Linked DNA regions of Homo sapiens. The protein of the gene in region 1 interacts with the protein of each later gene in a pairwise test. Each region holds a gene or a part of one and is shown in the gene's direction. Other genes may lie near its edges.

The links. Proteins that work in one complex are often made in the same cells at the same time.
Region 2: the proteins of SDCBP2 (region 1) and DMC1 interact in binary tests that used the Homo sapiens proteins (3 or more experiments, as listed by UniProt).

Annotation. Positions count from the first base shown.
Region 1 is NC_000020.11:1,318,240-1,323,684, reverse strand, and holds part of SDCBP2 (syntenin-2), read left to right. Parts: intron 1-2,484; exon of another isoform or gene 2,485-3,249; 5' UTR 3,250-3,268; coding exon 3,269-3,322; intron 3,323-4,025; coding exon 4,026-4,095; intron 4,096-5,266; coding exon 5,267-5,367; intron 5,368-5,445.
Region 2 is NC_000022.11:38,535,684-38,540,155, reverse strand, and holds part of DMC1 (meiotic recombination protein DMC1/LIM15 homolog), read left to right. Parts: intron 1-743; coding exon 744-835; intron 836-1,543; coding exon 1,544-1,617; intron 1,618-1,746; coding exon 1,747-1,861; intron 1,862-2,503; coding exon 2,504-2,564; intron 2,565-4,472. UniProt on the Homo sapiens protein: Participates in meiotic recombination, specifically in homologous strand assimilation, which is required for the resolution of meiotic double-strand breaks.

The DNA of each region.
Region 1 (5,445 bases):
AGGGACATAAGCAGCTGTGGATGTTGGTATCCGAGGGATGGGGAGTGAGGGGCATTGTCCTGGAACCTACCCCAAGGAACGACTGTACCTGTTTTCTCACTTCCCCGCATCCCAGCACTAAGATGGGATCCAGAGAAGGTGGCAGTGGTGAAAGGATCTCAGACACAGAAAAAGGGTTATGTGATCTGGCCCGGGAGTGATTTCCAGGAAATGGATCTCTGACTCCCTGCTCTCCCAGGGGACAGCTGACAAAAATATAAGTGCTCTACTGGTTAAATGTTAGGAAAATCAGGGCAGGAGTGGCTGCTTATTTTCGCATCTGCTGTTCATGCGTGGTCCTGGTGGCAGGTCATGTTTTGGCAGATGATAGCTGCTCAGGACTGTCCCAAGATTAAAAATCTCATAGTGTGTGTACACAGTGGGGAAGGCTATAAGCAAAGGGGTCTCTTCCCCCAGGTGGTCTAAAGGAAGTCAGAGCCAGACTCCCTCCCCTCCCAGGAAATTCCTGTCCTGTTGGGATGGTCATTTCTACCCCAAAGGCCAGGCTAGGGCAGGGTCTGGAACTGGCTGCCTCCAGGAACCAAGCAGGCAACGTAAATCAGTGAAGGGCTGATGGGTACTTGCGGAAACAGGAAAGCACGTACAGCCCCATTTGCGAGGTAGGCTGTGACTCAGCCGGGTGAGTGTTGCCATGCACTATTCCAGCTCTTGCCTTGCCAAATGTTTATATTTTTTTCAATCCAAGTAAGAAGTGACGCATTTTGTGTTTCCAGATTTTTAAATATTGGCACTAATTCAGATTTTAAAAACAAAAGGCTGGGCATAGTGGCTCAGGCCTGTAATCCCAACACTTTGGGGGACCGAAGCGGGCAAATTGCTTGAGCCCAGGAGTTCAAGACCAGCCTGGGCAACATGCTGAAACCCTGTCTCTACAAAAAATACAAAAATTAACCAGGTGTGGCGGCATGCACCTATGTCCCAGCTACTTGGGAAGCTGAGGTGGGAGGATGGCTTCAGCCCAGGAGTTGGAGATTGCAGTGAGCCAAGATCGCGCCACTGTACTCCAGCTTTGGCAACAGAGTGAGACTCTGTCTCAAAATAATAATAATAATAAAACAGGACTGTGAGAGGCACATTTGGGACTTCTGGTCCTTGTTTCATCCAGGAAGGTGGGTGTTCTTAGGATACTAGAGCTTTACTTTACAAGGAGAAAAGTGGAAGCCCAGGTAGAATGTGTTGCTTCTGGCAATATTATTGAGCTAGCCTCCATGCTAGGGGTTAGAGGCTTCACAGCAAATGAGAAGCCCCTGTTCCTGCCATCTTGGAACTCCTAAGGAGGTAGACAGACAAGTAAAGAGGCAACCACAAGAGTGGTGAATACTCAACAGGAGTAGGACATGGAGCAGGGGCTAGGGGGAGCACAAATCAAAGCAGGCTTCCTGTAAGAGGAGCTCCCTGATCTGAGACTTGAAAATTATTAGGAGTTGGCCAAGCAAGGAGCAGGGAGAGGAGGGGTATTCCAGATAGAAGGAATAACACATGCAAAAGAGACAGGAGGGAATCACATGCAAGGACGTGGAAGTAGCTCATTGTGGCTGGAGTTGAAAGTAGCAGCTGAAAGGACGTAAGGCAAGAAATGAAGCTGGAGAGGTAGACTAGGGTTGCAAACAAATATCTATTGGGACTTGGCACCAGTGAGTACAATGGTCTGGGTGTAACAGCCAATAGAGGATGGTGGACTGGGTCACCCTGGAGTCTGCTGCTACTCAATTGTAGCTACTCTGCTATAGCCTAGGGTTGCCAAAGCTTCCTGTTTTTTGGGAGCAGTGGGAAATTCGATTATTAAATCCAGTACCTTGAGCTTTGTGTTTAAGCTGCTAATCTGAACGTTTACAGTACTCCACAAGGTCAAATAAAATCTATTTCCATCTGGCCCTGGGCCCACCAGTTCCAATCTCTGGTGGAATCGTGAAGGCCCTGTGAGCCTCTTTAAGGAGAGTACATTCCCAAGGCAGGGAAGCCACTGGCGGGCTTTCAGCCAGGGCATGACATCCCAAGTGTGTACACAAAGGGCCTGGTGGCTGCTGTCTGGAGAGCAGCAGGACGGCAGGAGGGGAGGCAGCAGTGTGTTTGGAGGGTGTTATGGCACCTGGAGAGGGCCAGGGAGATGATGGGGACCTGCACAACACGGGATGTGGGAGAGATGGGATTTGATGACAGACAAGAAGGGATAGTGGGGGCGGGGCCAAGGATGACACAGGGGTCAAGGCAGCAGGTGCAGAGGGAGGAGAAGGAGCAGTGATGGATGAGTATGTCCTCGGCGTGCCTGTGGTCACTCAGGGAGGTGCCCAGCGGATCTGATCCTGGGAAGCCTGGAGTCACATCGCTCAGGCACAGGACCCTCAGTTTCCTGTGCCACCAGCGGGCATTCCTTTATCATGTGTACCCATCACATGTGAGTTCAGTGGGGTGAATAGGACACACCTTTACCCCTCAGAACTGCAGTCAGGACAAGTGGCGAGTTCAAGCAAGAGGCTGGCCCGGTGCTGTCCCGGAGCTGTCCCGGAGGGCAGGGTCCTGGGTGGGAGGGGCAGTGACCGTATTGCCTGGGAGCCAGGGGAGGCGTGTCCCACAGGAACCGAGGGTGACAAGGAGGTTGGGCAGGGGCTCCAGTTGGAGTGGACTGCCTCAGCGAAGCCTGGAGGTGTGACAGAGCCAGTGGTTAGTGAGTAAAGGGAAGGAACCCAGAAAGGCAGACTGCTCCTTCCCCACATTTCGTCAGGAAGGGAATAAAACATTTCTTAAGAGGTCATCATTCCTTTCACTTTCTCGGGGCACCTTGCTCAGAGGTCCTGCTGATTCTCCCTGGGACAATGAGAAGGTGTTTAGTAAATAAGTGCTCATGGTGCCTCTCCACCCCCCATTCCCTCCTCCCTCTGGAGCAGTGCCCTGTTGAGTGTCTAAGTTCTGCTACAGTTTGTGTGAGAGTCTTTATAAATTTCCTACTGGTCTTACTTCATTGTGGCCAAGATTAAAAGTTGACAGTGAGGCTGGAGATGAGTGGAATACAGTAGAGTTCAAATATCGACAGGGGATTAGGGGTGGAGTTCGGGGAGGCATTCTAAGTGCCCTGCTGCCTTTCTGTTTGAATATTAAGTTCCAACCCGCTTGCTGTTGCGGATGTCTGTGCCTCCTTTCAAGGGGGCATCAGCTGCATCCTTATCCTTCCCCACCCTCTGCACTCTGCAGGGTGTTCTGAGAATCAGCCATGTCATCCCTGTACCCATCTCTAGAGGACCTAAAAGTGGACCAAGCCATTCAGGTAAGTCGCCAGGCCCCATTGGCCTGGATTCCCTGAAGGGGACCTTGGGGATTACCCTGGAAGGTGCTGGGTACTGGGGCCACTTGGAGATTCCCGTAGGCCTCAGGGCATGTAGGTGTCCACTGCAGGGCCTGCTGGGCAGAGAAGACATCCAGGGGGCAATGCCAATGGCGTTACAGCAAGAATAGAAAAGACCAAGCAGCGCACGCATGCCTCTCTCATGCCTGCTCTGTCCTGCCCAGGCCCAGCTCTCCCTCCCTCCAGGATGGGCGGGCTCCATGCTCTAAGGCAGGCTTTCAGAGGAAACAAGACTAGTGGGCATAGGCATTGGTCTGCTTAGCCCCCAGAAGCCCCCTTCCTCCTCCATCCCAGCACTCTGTGGTTCCAGTGGGTTTTGAGAAATGGAGACTTTTCAGCTGAGAACTTGATTGGGAGATGGGCCTTGATGTTCTGCCTGTTGCAGGCAGTAAATGGGTTGTGACATAGGGTGGGTCACAGTCCCCCAGAACTTCCTCCCAGGAAAAGACACATCTGCGGAGGCCACGTTTACGTGATCTTGAGCCCTGAGGGTTGGTGCACACTCCCCCCACACCCCGGGCCCACTCACACCCCTAATGCCCAGACCCTGGCCTCATGGAGCTCCAGGCTCTGGGGTTCCTGGGGTCCTGGCCACAGCTGACCAGTGCTCCCTGCTCCTCCCCAGGCCCAGGTCAGAGCCTCACCCAAGATGCCAGCCCTGCCAGTCCAGGCAACAGCCATTTCCCCACCACCAGGTGAGTGGGCTGGGATGAGGGGCTCCTGGGTGCCAAGTCCTTTCAGGGAAGAGATCATCAGGGAAGCTTGGCAATGCCAAAGGTATGGGAGGCTCCAGGGTTAAGGACTCAACATGGTGGGAAGAGAGGACCAGGCTTCCAGTTGCCACCCACCTCTTACTGCCTGGGTGACCTGGGCTGAGTCACCTCACCTCCCAGAGCCTGTGCCCATGCTGTTCCCCTCCCTCCTTGACTGCCTGGTGAACCCCTGTTTATCCTTCCAAACCCAGCTCAAGTTAGGGAAGCTATGGCTTCTCTGATGCCCCCAGCAAGGCTGCCTTGAGGATGTGATATCATTTGTGGGGCCTCTGTCTATATAAACGATTTGAGTCACCTCAAATCAGCATTTCAGCACCATTCTGGTGATCCAATCTCATGTGACCCCGGGAATGAAATACCACACTTGTCAGACTTCCTTGCTGGAACTATGGCTGGCCTGGGGTGGGGGCAGGTGGGGAAGAAGTGGACGGCAGATAGCGGCTCAAAGAGAGAAGGGGCCAGAACCCCACTTGCCTTATTCAGCTTAGGCTTCCATAACAAAATACCATAGGCTGGATGACTTCAACAGCAGAAATGTATATTCCCACAGCTCTGGAGGCTGGAAGCCCAAGATCAAGGTTCTGGCCAATTCAGTTTCTGGTGAGGCCTCCCTTCCTGGCTTGCAGATGGCCACCCTCTGGCTGAGTCCTTACATGGCCTTTCCTCAGTGTACTTGCTTAAAAGAGAGAGAGAAAACGAGAACACGAGAGAGATACAGCATGAGAGCGCATGCATGAGCCCTCTGTTGTCTCTTCTTATAAGGACACAAATCCTTATAAGAAGGGATTAGGACCCTGCCAGTCCTGGTGGGAACCATTCGCTGAGGGATGCAGAGGTTTCTGGGTGTCAAATAAAGTCAGTGGAGTTGAATAGCAAAGTGGTGCATGAGGACTCGGTGTCCTACCCTGCACCTGGGCCCTCTGAGGAGCGCTCATCAGTGAGTGTTCCTGGGGATACCCCACAGTCTTGGAAATAAATACCATTCCCAGGCTCCATTTCTTAATAAAAATGAGCAGCCACAGGGGAGCCAGGCAGGCATAGGGAAGCACATGTCCTCTAATGACACATTTATTCTTCCTTCTTTCCCTATCAGTTTTGTACCCAAACTTGGCAGAACTGGAAAATTATATGGGTCTTTCCCTCTCCAGCCAAGAAGTCCAGGAGAGCCTGCTTCAGATTCCAGAGGGTGACAGTGTATGTATTTGGCTTCTGCCTGCTGCGGGCGCAGAACCTCCCAATCCTCCCTTTTTCCTGGTCTTGCCATTTCAACAG
Region 2 (4,472 bases), on another chromosome or scaffold:
GAGAAAACAAAAAAAAAGCTAACAACTCCTTTAGAAGAAAGTAGATTTTAAACTGTATATACTTTCCAGGTAAGATTTGAAAAGAAAAAGAAAACCTATGCCAACAAAAAACCTTTGGTCGATATTTCTCTTCTGGGCCCTTGAAGTTACCTTTTTGACCCTTTGGTTCATGTAGTCAAATTTATCATTTAACAACATGTGATTAATAATATAATAAACTATTTCATATTGAGGAATGAGGGGTATGAAGAGAGTGAATTAATTCACTTTGCAGTTATTGAATTATAATTCAGTGATATTATCTATTACAGGTCTATTTTTATAGATCTGAGAACAAAAGGACTCACAAAGCTTAGTTCCTAGTTTTTCTCTTGTAACTGATTTGCTGCATAAGCTCAAGTCATTTGCCTAATCTCTGTTTGCCAGTGTCTTACGTTGTAAAATGTAAAACAGGCCATAAAAACTAGCTTCCAAGGTTATTGTAAAGTTTTGATAATTTAATAGTTAAAGTCATTACTGCCTCACATTTCTATGACCATTATCACTACCTATGGTAAGTTGAGGCACTTATGAATAAACAAATCTTGTATAGACTTTAAATGGTTGCTAGCATCCTCTAGAATACCTTCACAGGTACATTGTTTGGCTTCTCTGTTAATTTACGGAAGATATTATGTTTTGTAGTGGTTGTCTAAACTTTTTTAGAATTGACTTATTGGATCCTTAATCTTGGCATACTCCAGCCGTCCAGATCGCCTTAGGGACATTGCTGATCGCTTTAATGTAGACCATGATGCAGTACTGGACAACGTACTTTATGCACGTGCATATACTAGTAAGAGCCCCATGCAGTTGGATGCTTGGGTCAATGTAAGGTTGGCAGCACTGATTTACTACTTGAGGGATACAACATTTTGATACTTTTTTTCTATTTTATTTTTCTCTAAATTAATTTACTCAGTCTATAAATTTTATCATCTGGTAAGTCCTTAGATAATAAAGTGCCCTCAAATTATTTATTATTCTTTGTCTTTGAAATTAAGAGTAACATTCTTTTTGGATAATGTAGCATTTGGTATACATGCTAAGGCAGAATATGCAATAATTTTTTTTTTTTTTTGAGATGGAGTCTCGCTCTGTCACTCAGGCTGGAGTGCAGTGGTATGATCTCGGCTCACTGCAACCTCCAACTCCTGGCTTCAAGTGATTCTCCTACCTCAGCCTCCCAAGTCGCTGGGATTACAGGCACACGCCACCACACCCAGCTAATTTTTGTATTTTTTAGTAGAGTCAGGGTTTCACCATGTTGGCAAGGCTGGTCTTGAACTCCTGACCCCAAGTGATCCACCTGCCTCGGCCTCCCAAAGTGTTGGGATTATAGGCATGAGCCACCATGCCCTGCTGCAATAATATTTAATAAAGTCATCAATAATTAAGAAAATCCTTCAAGGAATTTATTTTGCCTGGCTCCCAAGAATATGAATGATCTTAGCCTCTGCTTCTTTCAACTTTTATAACATTTTCTCACTGCATTTCCCATCAGGTGAACATCAGATGGAGCTACTTGATTATGTAGCAGCAAAGTTCCATGAAGAAGCTGGCATCTTCAAGCTATTGGTACAAGCTTTTAAATATTGCTTTCACAGAGCTATTTAGCATAATATTTTTCTTCTATTGATCTCTATTCAAATAACGTCTTCCTTCAATTTCCAAATGCATGTTTATTTTTACATTAATCCTGTGTAGATTATCGATTCAATAATGGCACTTTTTCGAGTGGATTTCAGTGGCCGTGGGGAGTTGGCCGAACGGCAGCAAAAATTGGCCCAGATGTTGTCACGACTCCAAAAAATCTCAGAAGGTATATCTTTAAAATAAAATGGCATCTGTGACTATGTTTGTCAAGTATACTTTGCAGAGAAGCTTGGAATATAATGTCAGGAGGCAGCGATTTTTTTTTAAATAAAATTACCTTTATGAGAATACAACTCTTTGTTTTTTTTTTGTTTTTTGAGATGGTATCTCGCTCTGTTGCCCAGGCTGGAGTGCAGTGGTGCGATCTCGGCTCACTGCAACCTCCGCCTCCCAGGTTCAAGCAATTCTTCCTCCTTAGCCTCCTGAGTAGCTGGAATTACAGGCACCTGCCATCACACCAGGCCAATTTTTTGTATATTTAGTAGAGACGGGGTTTCACCATGTTGGCCAGGCTGGTCTCGAGCTCCTGACCTCGTGATCTGTCCGCCTCAGCCTCCCAAAGTGCTGGGATTACAGGCATGAGCCGCTGAGCCCGGCTTTACAACTCTTTTTAAACCAAAAATATTTATTCTAACCTTAATAATAATAATAACAAATAATTTCTGTTGTCAATGAAAAATAGGAATATGATGTTATTTATAAAATAAATTCATGATGCAATATGTCTAAACTCTGAAATCTAAACAATGAACTTTTAAATATCTATATTGCCTTTCTCATAGTTTTAAAATTTTATCTCTTGATGCAGAATATAACGTGGCTGTTTTTGTGACCAATCAAATGACTGCCGATCCAGGAGCAACTATGACGTAAGCCCCAATATTCTACTTTTTATTTCACAGAGGTTAATATAAAGAGGGTTAGAGCGTAGAATAGAAAATAATTTCAAGGCCGGGCACGGTGGCTCACGCCTGTAATTCCAGCACTTTAGCAGGCTGAGGCAGGCGGATCACGAGGTCAGGAGATGGAGACCAGCCTGACTAACATAGTGAAACCCCGTCTCTACTAAAAATACAGAGATTAGCCGGGTGTGGTGGCGCACACCTGTAATCTCAGCTACTCCGGAGGCTGAGGCAGAAGAATCACTTGAACCTGGGAGGTGGAGGTTGTAGTAAGCCGAGATCGCGCCATTGTACTCCTGTCTGGGAAACAGAGCAAGATTCTATCTCAAAAAGAAAAAAGAAAAAAGAAAAGAATTTAAAAATCATTAGTCTTTATGTGGGCACAAATATATCACAAATCACTTTATTACTGGGCGCAGTGGCTCATGCCTGTAATCCCAACACTTTGGGAGGCCTAGATGGTTGGATCACCTGAGGTCAGGAGTTCAAGACCAGCCTGGCCAACATGATGAAGCCTCGTCTCTACTAAAAATACAAAAAATTAGCTGGGCGTGGTGGCGTGCACCTGTAATCCCAGCTATTCGGGAGGCTGAGGTGGGAGAATCACTTGAACCTGGGAGGCGGAGGTTGCAGTGAGCCAAGATCATGCCATTGCACTCCAGCTTGTGCAACAAGAGCAAAACTGCATCTCAAAAAAAAAATCACTTTATTGCACAGTGTATATGACTTCATAATTGTAAATATCACTTGGTAACCAGAATCTATTTTTCTCTAGTTCTTTATAGAATAAAGCAATACTTTAACCATTTTCAGCAGTACTTTGGGCTTCTCTTTGGTCTAGGGCTAAAGGGGTATGGGAGGACAATAAGAAATAGATCCTAGGGAAATAAAAACTTATATTGCAGCTTATCAGTATAATAAACACCATTCATAAAAACAAAAAAGTCATCTTTCTACAGGATATACATGAGATATATTTATCAGAGGCACTATGGGAGAAGTCTCCTGTTTGAAGAAAAAGAATTTCAGTTCACACTAGGCATATTCAGAATTTGTTGAAGTGTTTGTGCACATAACTATTGATGACTCTGAAAGACGGCAGTGAATAGAAACACACAGAGAGCTAAAGTAGGATAATAAAAATAGATAAATCAAACAAAGGTTTGTTGCCACCGTAACAAATTTTGAGCATTATGTGTCTGAATAAGCAATCAAAATAATCCTAAATACACACCACTGCACTCCAGCCTGGGAGACAGAGCAAGACTGTCTCAAACAAAGCAAAACAAATCTAAATTCATGATAATGCTTTTTTAAAGTGTGTGTGTGTTTTTTTTTTTTAAGAGACAAGGTTTCACTCTGTCACCCAAGCTGCAATGCAGTGGCACCATCTCTGCTCACTGCAACCTCTGCCTCTCAGGCTCAGGTGATGCTCCAGCCTCAGCCTCCCGAGCAGCTGGGAGGCACACATCGCCACGCCTGGCTAATTTTTTTATTTTTAGAAGAGACAGGGTTTTGCCATGTTGGCCAGGCTGGTCTCGAACTCCTGGCCTCAAGCGATCCTCCCACCTCAGCATCCCAAAGTGCTAGGATTACATGTGTGAGCCCCCTTGCCTAGCCAAAAAGCTTTTAAAAAAATCTTTTAAAGGCTGGGTGCAGTGGGCAGTGGCTCACTGTAATCTCAGCACTTTGGGAGGCCGAGGTGGGAGGATCACCTGAGGTCAGGAGTTCAAGACCAGCCTGGACAACATGGCAAAACCCTGTCTTTACTAAAAATAAAAAAACTAGCCAGGCATGGTGGTGTGCACCTGTAGTCCTAGCTTCTTGGGAGGCTAAGACAGGAGGATCACTTGAACCTGGGAGGCAGAGGTTGAA